Homo sapiens: one gene and its partner. The protein of the gene in region 2 interacts with the protein of the main gene of each other region in a pairwise test. Each region holds a gene or a part of one and is shown on either strand. Other genes may lie near its edges.

Region 1 (7,029 bases), on a different chromosome or scaffold from region 2:
TCCCGAATACACAAAACTATAGAGACAGAAAGATTAGTGGTTACACAGTGGTGGGGGCAGGGGATGGAAGGCTGGAAGGAAGTGAAGAGTGGTTTTCAGTTTCTTTCTGCAGGGACGAAAATCTTATAAAATTGATTGTGGTGATGGCTGCACAATTCCGTAAATATATGAACAACCACTGAATTGGACAATTTAAATGGGTAAGTTGTACAGTATACAATTTATATCTCAATAAAGCAGTTTTCAAAAATTAAATAAGAAATTGAGGAGTCAAGCAGTTATACCAAGAACACCTAGAAAACGGAAAGGAGAGAGATGCCTTCTCTTTCTCAGATTATGTCAACGTAAAGATACTTTTTCTTATTCAGATTAATTCAACATTTATTCATTGATGCCTACTACTCTTTAGGAACTAGGCTTGACTGGGAATCCCATAAAAAAGACCTAGTTCTCTCCCTCAAGGCTTTCCATCCCTACTAACAGCTGCTACCACTCACCGGGAAAGGAGCTAAGGGTTTCATGTATAGCATCCCATGATGAGGTGGACAGCCTTACCCTTATTACTGATGAGAAAGCCAACTCAAAGAGGGTAAGTGATTTGGCCATGTTCACAGCACTAACCAACAGGAGGGAGACTCGAAGCCAGATTTGTCTATGACAAAAGCCTATGCCCTCTTCACCTCACTGTATTCCTCCCAGGTCAAGGTGAGCAGGAAAGTACAAAAACTACTGCAATGAAATGCAGTCTGGATTAGGGTCAGAAGAGGGCCTCTCCAGCTCCGCATCAAGGAGAAGTCTTCACAAAAAAGTGAAACCTAGGCAGAACTCTCCTTCATGAGAGCTGATACATCACTCAAACAAAAGGAGGTGGGTGGGGCTTTCTACACACAGAAAAAGGTGAGAGGGAATGTGGAAAATTCAGAGACTAGGAAGCAGCTCCATCTGGCTAGAGTATCAGACAAGTATGAGGAGATGGTGGGAGAAAGAATAGAAAGGAGGTTGGGACTTGAAAATGACTGCCACTCGCAGCTAGGAATTTAACCCAAGCACAGAGGCTGACTAGACATTAAAGTATTCTAGGCAGGAGGCAAGAAAGAGCACTCTAGATGCAGGTGGTTAATGCTGGAAGCAGGGGCCTTGCAGGGATTAGGAGGCCCTGCAAATTGTCCAGCTGAGAACTGAGAAGGGCCTGAAGTGCAGCAGCAATGAAAACAGGGGAAAAGAAACAATTTGGAAGATGTTTAGGAGGTGGGAATTCCAAGACCTGGAAGGATGTGGAAACTTAAGGATCCTGACCCAAGAGGTAGACTGGACACTGATGGTGACAACAGTACCCACAACTCTCCTCCTTCCTTCCTGAGCCCCTCCCCCATGTAGCCACTGGCCTCAGGGAAACTGACCCCACTCCCACCCAGCTTCAGGAAAGACCCTTTATTCTTCTACAGGTGATCCCATTGCCCTTATCGCCCAAGAATGGCCATGAGACTCATTCTAGCTAAAAGACTCAAGGGAAGTCTGCTGGAGGACTTCAGGAGAAAGCCTTTCTCCTAGAAAAGACTGTCTCTATTACTATCCTACATATTGCCATATACAAATATCACCTCTTCATCTCTAGAATTTGGCCATTGCTACCACCTGAGGATGGCACTGGCTCCAAGATAGCAGAGCAAGGATGAAATGAGAGAAGCTGGGACCTTGATGTCACTGACCCGCCCTGAACCTCCTTTCCTTGCCCCTGGATTCCCTGATAGGTGAGCTAATAAACTTCCTCATGTTCAAGTAGTTTGCAATGGTATCTCCATAACTGGTGACCAAAGCATCTTTACTGATAGAGTGTGAGATCATTCATCAAACTTGGAAGCACAGGAAGATAAGCAGGTCTGGAGGAGGGTAGTGATGGCTGGCTTAGGCATCTAGTGCAGAATCTAGTAAGTGATCAGAATCCAGAAAATAAGGAAGTTGGGACTACAGGTACAGATGTGGAGTTTCAGCATTCTAGTGGTGGTTGAGGCAATGTGAGTAGATGCACAAATGGAACATGATACTATTTCTCCTACAGACAGATCTGACAAATATATATGAATATCAAATCACCACTGCTCTCCCACTTCTAACAACCACTCATACCCCTCGGAGAACCTGTGCAACCTTAGGCAGGGGTGGCAGAGATTCGATATCCCAAACTGAAATTCAGAAATAAATGTATTTGCAAATAATATATCATACATACTAATAGCTATCATTTATTGAGCACCTTTTATCCTATGTACCTAAAATTCTTTCCTCAAATTCTCACAGTCATCCTATGAGGCAGATATCATGCCCCTCAGCTTACAGATAAGGAAACTGGGGCTGGCAAAAAAAAAAAAAATCACTTGTCCAATCACAAAGCCAGTAATTACAAGGCAGACAAGGATTTGATTGAACACAGGACAGGGAGCAGGGAGGGGAAAGACTGATGGTGACCATACAGCACTCCCATTAGGAGGCTGGCCCAGGTGAAAGGGCCAAACTAAGTCAGGAGCAGCGAGGATGGCAGAGAAAAACCAATTTCGACAAGTCGCAATTAAGGCAGCAGAGGTTCCAAGCCTGCTTCTCAAACACAGGTCTGATGAAGGTCAAGGTGGAACCTGAGTGATTTAACAACTCAAATAGTCTCTCTGGGCTAGCTCAGCAACCTGACCCTCACTCACGGCCCCCACTGTTCTCTAAACAAAGCACTTTCTAACCAACCGCTGAAACATAGTCCCCCTCAAGATGAGGACTCCACATTACTAAATGCGCTTTCCCGAGGGCTCAGAAGGTGTCGTTCCTAAACAATACACTGCAGCACATGGTTCCCTCTGCAGTCTCGGTCCACCAATTCCTCCTTTGCCATCTGACCTTTTGGTTATTGTCTGTGTGAGCTATCGCTCAGCACTTCTCTGTTTTCCCTGCCTGTCCCCATCTCTCTTGTTCTAACTTCCTCTTGGCATGTCAATATCCTGTGCTGGAAAACAAACTTCTCACACATTTTGGAAGGGCTGCAGGCCCTTTATGTCTTCAGCGATCATTAAGACAGCCTCCGAAGGAACTATTCCAGACCTTGATGAATCTCTTTGCAAGAGTGTGTAGTTATAGAGAAAGGGATTCACAATACGCAGCATTAAGACATAATGACTATTTCACTTAAAAAAGAACACAGGAAATACATGCATGGCTCAGAGGACACAGGAATGCAATCACATTTTTTACAATGGTATAGACACTCTAAATTGTACTTACAAGGTTTTTGAGTCACAAAGTAAACTGACTGGTTCCTGAATTTAGCACACTGAGTCTATGCCCAGGACATGTGATAACAGGTGCCTGTTTAATCTTAACATATGAAACGTGGAAACAAAACTTATGGTGCAGAAACAAACGGTGGTTAGTCATCACAACCCAAAGCAGGATGACCAGGAGCAATATGCAGGAGCTTCAGATGTGATTAAAATTGTCAGAGATAAAGCTGAACCAAAGCAGTCAATCTCAGAGAGGCAGGAGCCGTAGATGCAGCCAGTTTGATCTCTGACTTGTCATGTTTACAACAGGCCTGCAGACAAACACACTTTGCATCAGAATGAAAAATATAATTTTTTCATAAAAACCCAATATTTAATGTATTTACACCATCTTTTCCAGTAAGCCTTAGAGCAGTGTCAGATTAGGTTTAAACAGCTTCAAGAGTAACACACAGGTGATTCAGCAAGATTAAAAATTACAGTGCTGGTTCACAATAGCATAAACCCCCACTGTGAAACCAACCAACATGGTTCTCAGTTTCAAGAATGGGAGACAAGGAAGAAAAGTCACTAAAGTATGAGGATCTATTTTCCATTTGGGAAATATGCTCTTCTTCGGAAAGACTCAGGTTGGAAGGGGAGCATTAAATTTAGAAGAGAAAGATTTGGTACTTACAAAATACAAAAACGGTGTGATTCATGTTTTCTGAAATAGCTGCTAGTCAGCTTTTCAATGTACTGCATGCATTCAGTCCACTGCACCGTCTCATTTTCTACCCATTATCAATACAAAAATTAGAGTATCTTGACAACAGATTTTTCACAGTGGGATTCACTTTATTCTAGGGTCTTTTCTAGTAAAAATAAAATAGCAAAGGAACTCCATTATCTAGAAGATTTTCAATACAGCCTATTCCAGCTGTAACACTCCACTCATTCTTCTATCAAATTATAGTTAATAAGCATCTACCACATGAAGTATACAGCTCTGACTCCTGGGGATCACAGGTAGCAGCTCACAGGCTGCTGGAGGAGACAGATGTGTCCAGAAATAATGCATGCAGTGTGACAGATGCTGTAACAGGGATGTGTGAGGCACAAATAGGCACCTACCTCCGCTTGGTCAGGCAGAAGTGAAGGCTGCCTAGCAGATGGGACACTTGATTCAAGGATGCTTCCGATAAGTATGTGTTTATGGAGAAACAAAATGGTACACCAATCAGCAGGAATCTCATGCATAAAGTCTCAAAACAATCTGGAATATTTGGGAAACCGTGAGCAGTTTCTGCATACCTAGAGGGCAAGTCACTTGGACTGGCAGGGCTAGATCAGGTAGGGTGCTAAGTCAAACAATGAAGCTTGGACTTTATCTCTAGGAAGGAATGAGCCACTACAACAAGGAGAAGAGGAGGAAAGGTGGAATAAAGTTAAAATTTGCTGGGTGCTTATCATGTGCAAGACAGCATGAATGTAGAAGGTGAATACTGTACATCATTTCTCTTCATTTTACAGATGGGGAAACTGAAACTCAGAAACGACTCGGCTAGTAAGTAATTAGCGGTGCCAAAATTTAAACCCAGGTAATCTGACTTTAGAGCCTATGCTTTTAATCACTGCAGGTATTGTTTTGTGTATAAAGATATGAAGCACGTGTAAAGATACTTGAATATGAAGCAAGATAAAGATAACATATTGTTTTCACTGAATATGAGGGTAAACAACTCACCATTCCAAAAGAGGGGGAAAAAAGAAAAAATAGAAGGCATCTAAAAGTTACCCCGCATTCAATATTGAAACTGTGCAACAAAGACATAAGAACAAAGGAAGCTGCTATCCTCTATGAGAGTGGTTCTCAACGGAGGGTGATTATGCCCATCAGGGAAGATCTGGCAACATCTGGGGAGATTTTTGGTTGTCATTATTGGAAAAGAGGTGCCACACATCTGGTGAGAGGAGGCAGGGAATGCTGCTAAGTATCCTACAAGGGACAGGATAAACTCCCACAGGGAGTTCAAGATAGTTCAAGCTTACCAATACAGAATTCAAGAACACACACAGTAACTGGACTGCAAAAAGTGTAGTTCACTATCAACCAAGAATACCAGAAGCACCTAGGGAGGGACAGCCAAAAGCTGTTGGAGGTAACCAACAATGCTTTCCCCCTTAAACAGTTATTAAATCACATTCAAGTCATGGATGATAAAAGGTATTTTTAATAATTTTTTTCAAGAAAAAGACTTCTTGTAAAATTGAGGGGCTATTTATACACAGTTCATCTTATGCGGCCACAACCTGGATATCACTTTTGAATTTTAGAAAACTGGATGTAGTTATGCAGGAGAGACACTTTCTAGCCCAGTCACATCTAATTTAATACCCAATCAAGACCACAGTGAATCTTACGTTTGTGTGTGATTACTTGCTTCTACCTACGTTTATATGGTTCCTGACTCTGTACCTTAAGTAGCTGATACCAAAAGATATGAGTATTCACATATAAACTTAATATAATTTGTGAAACTATTGCTTTTCATTTTTTCCCAATCTTCTGGGATATTTTATTTATTAGTCCAAATTGAATGAAAATTGTAATTTTTGGTAAGTGAGATGCATAAAATTTAAGCCCTCGCCTTATGCTTGTTTTCCTAGCTTATTAGGAAATTTCTAACCAAAAGCATCAAAACTGACTCACAGTATTCCCTCAGGAATCTCAGGATGATTGGGAAGTAACATTATTTAGTAGTTAATGGATGAACTATACACTTTAACTGGGCGAAATGTATGGTATACCTTAACAAAGCCATTTAAAAGAAGGTAATGGAATTTTCATCTTACTGCCATATTGGTTTCATTAGTTTAGTCAATACTCATAGGGAAAAATGAGCACCTAAACATTCATCATGCTACTCAGAGGATTAAAATCTTGCCAAAATGAAAATACTAATCTATTTCATATTTGTAGCAGCAATTTTGAGAATTAAATTTATAATCAAATCTTGTGACTTTTGTTTTCCTGAAAATGTTTTGCTAACCAAATGAAAAACTAGAAAAGCAGTCTGAGCCACATTCAAGTTTTGCTAAGAGAACAAAAAGAAAGTTATCTACCTCCCTCAGCACAGAGAACTAGAAAGGATACAACAAAAGTTTCCCAGAACATTACTCAAACAACTGAGACCAACCATACCAAATATCCTTACTTGAATAAACAACAGATAGCAGCAAAAGACAAACAGCTAAAAGCTATTGTAGGGCTCAACACACAACCAATAGCTCTCAGCTTATGTAAACTTGAGTTTTTAAATCTCGGATAAGGTTCAAACTGTGAACTGCATGAATAAGACTTTCTGCTATCAAGGTGAGGTTGCCCCTAAAGCAAGTAAAAAAGGCAAATACCTCCGTAACATTAACAGGGATGCAAAGATACTGTGTTTTATTTTTCTGGTATTTTTTTTTTAACAGAAAATTATTTTCCATTTAAATGGAAATTAAATGGAAATAAAATTATTTTCCATTTAACTGATATTCATCTTACCATATAAGATGAGTAACTGTTGTCTTCAGGCTGAAACACTTTTCATGATGACACATTAATTTTTTTTCTAACATCGATGAAAAACTTTATCTAAGTTGAAGAAAAATCACTTCAAAACTAACTTTTCTATTTGTAATTTGGTGCTTAAATAAATCCAAAGAATGTTTTTCAAAATGATACACAGAAAAAATGTTTACCAAGATTCTCTCATATTTCTTCCACCTTAACTTGCTA
Region 2 (7,029 bases):
CTCATATTCTTCACGTGTAAAATGAGGATATTAACACCTGCCCCAAAAAGCTGTTGAAAGGATTAAGTGAGATGATGCATGTGAAGCACTTTGCAGAGGCTGGCATGTGGAAAGTGCTATCATAATCTTCTGTTTGAAGGGCAGGGAAATATAATACTACTGTCTTCTTCACAATGCCAAAATCTGAAGTGTTCAAATATTTGCAATTTGGAAAAAAAATCAAGATGTGATCTAAAATATGATCATTCATTTTGTCCTACAATATATACCCACTGTTACAGTTACCAATAAGCAGTAGCAATAAAATCCTTTTGTTTCCTGTGGTCACCCTCTAGTGGTGATCCTAAGAAGCTAAAGGAAACATGATATAAAAATACAATAAGGAACCAAAGAATAAGTGTTCAGAATAGATAAAATTATCAAAATAAAAATCAAAGTGAAGATTTTTCTTAGTCCAGGTATACAGGTTTGACTCAAACATAAACAGAAGACATCCAATGCAGAATTTCCTAAAATGCTTAGGGTAAAGTTGTTCCAAAAAGTGAGTTAATGGAAATCTCTAAATTAAGCAAAGCTAAGCATTTTCCCATTCTGTGGGACACCGCAGATCCTTCATAAAGAATGTGATTCTCCAAAAGGAGTCTTTCTCAAATGTCAACCAGCAAATACTTTTTTCAGTAGAATACTATTGCTGTAACAATGGATGAGGGGATAGCTATACTAGAAGTTTATATAACTAATTACATTATTAATAAGGAATTAGGTAACTTAGTATTTATTTAGTCTTAAGTTTTAAAAAATAATTATCGTGCAAATGGCAACATGAAATTAGAGGACACCCAGATAATTATTTTGAAGAAACATAAATCTCAAAATAAAATGCATTTTAATTAAATCTTTAGAAAGAAACTAGTATTCCTGATATTTTACAACCACATTTAATATAAACTTAAATAATCATTTCATAATATTTGTATTAGATTAACAACCAAATAATCATCATATAAAACTAAAGGCATAATATTCACAAAACTTTAAAATGATTTAAAATACTAAAATAGCCAAAATTATTTCTTCATCAGTATCAGAAAAAGAGAATCAACAGTAGGAAAATATTTTTGAATTGCACCTAAAATAGTAAGGGGTGACATACCTGGGATTTCCCCTTAGTGCAGCATGATGCAGAGCATTAAATCCATTATTGTTTGTGATGGTAACATCTGCTCCAGCTTCCAAAAGAACTGCTAGGATATCATCACGTTTCTTACTTATTGCATCATGAAGAGGGGTATCACCTTCAGAATCCTTTAAGTTTAAAGAAATTTTCATTAGTTCTTCAATTAATTATCCCATCTAATAGTAATACTTACACCAAATGCTAAGCAAACAGAAGCAGAGACCACATCCAACAAATACCAATAAAAGAGCACTTTCTGTGATAACTACAAAAATATAGGCAAAGGCTGGGCATGCTGGCTCATGTCTGTAACCCTAGCACTTTGGGAGGCTGAGGCGGGAGGATCAGCAGAGGCCAGGAGTTCAACACCAACCTGGGCAACATATAGAGACCTTGTCCCTACAAAAAATTTTAAAAATTAGCCGGGCACGGCGGTGTGCACCTATAGTCCTAGGTACTCAGGAGGCTGAGGCAGAAGAATGGCTTGAGCCCAGGAGTTCAAGGCTCCAGTGAGCTATGATCATGCCACTGCACTCCAGCCAGGGTGACAGAGCGAGACTCTATCTCCAAAAATATAAAAAACAAAAATACAGGCAAGAAACACTGGCCACATTATAGTAAGGAAAGACATACTCAAATCTAGTTGGAAAACAAAATAAGCATGCTGGAATTTTTTTTTCTTTTTTTTGAGACCAAGTTTCGCTCTTTCACTCAGGCTGGAGTACAATAGCGCGATCTCAGCTCACTGCAACCTCCACTTTCCGGTTTCAAGCGATTCTCCTGCCTCAGCCTCCCAAGTAACTGGGATTACAGGCACCCACCACCATGCCCAGCTAATTTTTGTATTTTTAGTAGAGACGGGGTTTCACCACGTTGGCCAGGCTGGTCTCAGACTCCTGACCTCGTGATCTGCCCACCTCAGCCTCCCACAGTGCTGGGATTACAGGCGTGAGCCACCTTGCCCGGCAAAGTTCTTTTTTTGTAGAGATGGGGGTCTCAGTATGTTGCCCATGCTGGTCTTGAACTCCTGTGCTCAAGTGATCCTCCCACATGAGCCTCTCAAGGTGTTGGGATTACAGGCATAAGCCACCACTCCTGGCACATGCTGAAGCTTTACAAAGCAAAAAGAAAAGAAAAGAAGTAGCCTCAAATATAACTAATGACAAAAACCAGTGAAGTGATAAAGCTGCCCCCCAAATTTTATAAGTTTAAAATGGCCTTAATTGTCATACCCTGAAATTCCATACCAAACCTACACCATAACAATGAATTGAAAGTCGGTGGCTTTCAAACTTGGCTGCTCATTAGAACCTGCTGGGGAGATCTTTTAAAATCTGTTGTACAGAGGAAAAAAAAGAGAAAAAAAAATCTGATGTCCAGGCTGTTCACCATACTAAATCTCTAGAGGTGAGAGTGAGGCATGAGTAATTTTTCAAAGCTCCACAGATGAACATCTTGTGCAGTCACAGGTGAGAAACATTAATCTAAGCGTTTTCAAAGGGCAGCAAAGTGGCTAGTTAGCCAAAGGTAAAACAATTGTAAATTAAAATTTAGCAATCTCAGTCTACCATTTTTTCAAGCTGACTACTTTTTACATTAATCAATTGACTTAGCAGTAAGTTTTTATTCATTAGCAGTCATGTACAGACATGAATAATTTAAATTTCATTCATTTCATAGTTGAACAGATGCTATTCTCAGTAAAGTCATATACAACCTGGCCTACAGCATATACTACAGTTGCCAAATTCAGTTTGCCACTTGTTTTTTGTTTGTTTTATTCTTTTTTACTAGACATATTTCCTGCATGGTTTGTCTCCCCAGTCACTGTCCACAGGATTCTGAGAAGCTACAGGAATATGAAAGTGCAAACACCAGACCCAGCTTCATCTCCAACACTGAGGAAAGGGACTGTACATCATGGGGCAGAGCCCTATGCTCCCCTAAGCCATGTGGACAAAGCCTAGAAAAAATGATATCCCAGGATATTACACATTGGAGCCACCTGTTTTTGTAAATTAAGTTTTATTGGAACACAGCCACACCCATTCATTTATGTATTATCTATGGCTGCTTTCATTCTGCAATGAGAGTTAGATAGTTGTGGCAAAAGCCAATAAGCCACTATTATCTGTGCCCAATATAGAAAATGTTTGCTAATCCCAGGAATATATTCATCCACCTACATAAAGAATTCCTGCTAGGCATGGTGGCTCACACCGGTAATCCCAGGACTTTGGGAGGTGGGAGCAGGAAGATTGCTTGAGACCAGAAGTTTGAGACCAACCTGGGCATTTCTACAAAAAATTAGCCAGGCATGGCAGCTCACACCTGTAGTCCCAGCTACTCGGGAGGCTGAGGTGGGCCCTGAAGGTTGAGACTGCAATGAGCCATGATCACGCCACTGAATTCCAGCCTGGGCAACAGAGCAAGACCCTGCCTCAAAAAAAAAAAAAAAAAAAAAAAAAGAATTCCTAACCCAAGTTCAATCCAACCATCTACCATCTACCTTCTACTCCTGTATCTGGCGGCACTAAAAATCTGTAGTGTTCAACCTGAAACGGGCTTCTAACATGATTGGAACACCCTTCTGCAGGTCCCCAAGTCCTTATCACTCTTCTCAATTACTCTTTCTCTACCCACCACTCTCAACAGATGAACTTGTCTCCCATTTCAGACAAAAAACGTCAGCAGGTATAAATCACCTCTCCTTACAGATTAACACCCCCCCAATTCTTCCCTCATCCTCCAATCCTGCCTCCCACTTACAAGGACATACTCTAGATCCCAACAGTTCCAAAACAGCTGCACTTCAAAAACCTTAATTTCTAATAATTATCTAGCTGAACAAAATCTATTCTTTCAGTTCTTCTCAAGCCCTCATTCCCACTACTACTGTTCTTTATTTCTTCTCTGAGATCTATCCAATCCAGCAACCAATTCCTGGATGCTGTAAATTATCTAAACTACAAGCAGCTTATGATTCTAACCACTGCCCTACTTTTTAAAAAATCATTATTGAGTTTCCAATGGAAACAAATTATGTTTTACATATTCAAATAGTATTTCAGGGAACACTTTTATTTAAAAATAATATGTTGTTTCAAGCCTATTCGGTTAAGGAACCTAAAAGTTGGCAAATTAGATTCAGGAGCTACAAAATTACTAAGTATAGAAACTTTAATCAAACAGGTGCACAAAAGACAAGTTGCTTAGTAACCAAACTAAGCAGAAAATGGACACAGACTACATTTTCTATATATTTGTGGTTTAATTTATCTGGTTATAAAACTGTAGCTGGGGATAATCATTTCTTAGGCAATCATTGCTTCAAAAATTAGATCCTACTGTAAATCAACTCTAAAATCCTATACATTTTCCAAAACAGAAATCTCCGAAGATTACACTAACGACTATTCAAAGTCCCTAAGCTACAATAAAAGCTACAATTAAAATAATTTAAATAGTTATGAAGTAACTATTATGAAATATAGCCTATTACACTTCTTTAAGCTGTTGAGCTCACTGTCATGATCAATAAAGTTAAATCCATTCATAAGCTGATATTTTTACAAAGAAGTCCTCATTCTCCCTGCCCAATCAAAACCCAATCTATTGGCATTTTCCCTAAAAAAAAACAACTTTTTAAAAAAGAAATAGCTGCCAATTTTGTAACATCTTACGCCTTTGGTATCATTTACTATGACATATGAGAACGGTAACAAAGGAATGCTTACCATAGAACTTAATGTTTCCCTTTAATAGGATCCTAGCAATACCTGCAGGATGTGTTTCTTTAAAGGTTTTACCTGGAGACTGGGATGACAGCCAAAGTCCAATAAAGTCTTCACAACTTGAAGATGACCTTTATTGACAGCAATATGAAGTGGTGTCTGTCGGCGCTTGTTTCGAGCATTCAAATCAGCACTACCTCGATGTAGTACTTCTATAACAGCGCCTTCATCTCCAAAAGCTGCATGGTGAACTGCTCTATCACCATCTTTATCCTAATCATTAGTATTGAAATGTGAATTAGTGAATATTTTAGAAAGAAAAAAACCTTGAAGCTATAATAATATACCAAGAAGCAGATTAATTTGAGAAAAGGCAATGTAGGAAACAACAAAATAACTAGAACTTGACCAGGTGCAGTGGCTCATGCCTGTAATCCCAGCACTTTGGGAGGACAAGGCAGAAGGATCACTTGAGGCCAAGTAAACTGTAAATGTGAGTAAGATTTCCAACAATACCAATCTGGGCAACATAGCAAGATCCTGTCTTGTAGAGAGAGCCAGGCATGGTGGCACCCACCTGTAGTCCCAGCTACTTGGGAGGCTGACACAGGAGGATTGCTTGAGCCAAGGAGTTTCAAGTTACAGTGAGCTATGATCGCACCACTGCACTCTGACCGGGGCAACAGAGTGAGACCCTGTCTCTATAAAAAAATTTTTTAAAACCTAGAAACTGACTTGAACAGTGACTAACTCCCAAAGATAAATGATAAACTTAGATCATTTTATATATATGTATTTATTTATTTATATATATACATTTATATATAATTTTATATATATATATATATATATATATATATATATATATATATATATAAAACCAACAGCTTGAACTTTCAGCATTCCTCATTTATCAGCCATGATGGTAAGCCAATTTTTTTTGACATTTAAAAATTTTTACAAAGACCATTTTTGTTGTTGTTGTTGTTGTTGTTTTTAAAGAATCAGGGTCCTAGGCCAGGCGCAGTGGCTCACACCTGTAATCCCAGCACTTTGGGAGGCCAAGGCGGGCGGATCACCTGAAGTTAGGAGTTCAAGACCAGCCTGGCCAACACGGAGAAAACCCGTCTCTACTAAAATTACAAACATTAGCCAGACATGGTGGCACATGCCTGTAATCCCAGCTACCCGGGAGGCTGAGGGAGGAGAACTGCTTGAATCCGGGAGGCAGAGGTTGCAGTGAGCTGAGATCGGGCCACTGCACTCCAAGCCTGAGCGACAGAGCAAGACTGCCTCTCAATAAAAAAAGAATCAGGGTCCTGTTCTGTCACCCAGGCTGGAATGCAGTGGCAGTCATAGCTCACTGCAGCCTTTAACTCCTGGCCTTAATAAATTCTCCAACTTCAGCCTCACAAAATGCTGGGATCATAGGTGTGAGCCACCGTGCACGTCCTACAAAGATGACACAAAAAGTAAACTAAGATGAGTTGTGTGATTGAAAAAAAAAAAAAGAATGCCAAACAATGTGATCTCAACTGGCTTTAATGGGGAGCAATTTATCAACACATTAAAACTGGTTAAGTGATGAGCATACATTTTTCTGTATATTCGAGAACAGAAAAAAAATTAAATACACCATTAAAAGATAAAAACGAAGCATAAACTACCAAAATTCCATATATCAAAAATTCCAAAACTATTTCAGAAGAATCAAATAGATTTGCCTCACCTCCTGTAACAGGCATATTTCTGAAGAAATGAGAAGGCAGGAAAGACCAAATTGCTTAAATTTTTTAAAACTAAAAGAAGGTACTTTATAAAGGGGAAAAACTGCCTGCACTGCGCCATGAAGGTAGTATACATAGCTTATACCAAAAAGTATGAAAAGAAGTCTCACTGCCTTGCCAGAAGCAGATGGAAAAGGGTAGTAGGTATAAGCGTATTGCATTTATTCCAATACTGCATTGCAAATTTTAACACCCACCAAGACCATGTGTCTGTCCCTGATCCTGGTACTCTAAGACTTCCTCCATCCAAAGCAGTGGTTTCCGATTCCCAATACCACTGTGCCAGCCCCTGGTGGACTCCCTAGTTTTGCAAGGGGTCTGACAATCCATA

Evidence for each region.
Region 1: the proteins of MIB1 (region 2) and EPB41L4A interact in a two-hybrid assay, tested with the Homo sapiens proteins (one study listed by BioGRID).

Annotation. Positions count from the first base shown.
Region 1 is NC_000005.10:112,409,269-112,416,297, forward strand, and holds part of EPB41L4A (band 4.1-like protein 4A), read right to left. Parts: intron 1-7,029.
Region 2 is NC_000018.10:21,813,771-21,820,799, reverse strand, and holds part of MIB1 (E3 ubiquitin-protein ligase MIB1), read right to left. Parts: exon of another isoform or gene 6,905-7,029; coding exon of another isoform or gene 6,896-6,904; intron 5,185-6,895; coding exon 4,987-5,184; intron 3,177-4,986; exon of another isoform or gene 2,972-3,176; intron 1,306-2,971; coding exon 1,154-1,305; intron 1-1,153. UniProt on the Homo sapiens protein: E3 ubiquitin-protein ligase that mediates ubiquitination of Delta receptors, which act as ligands of Notch proteins.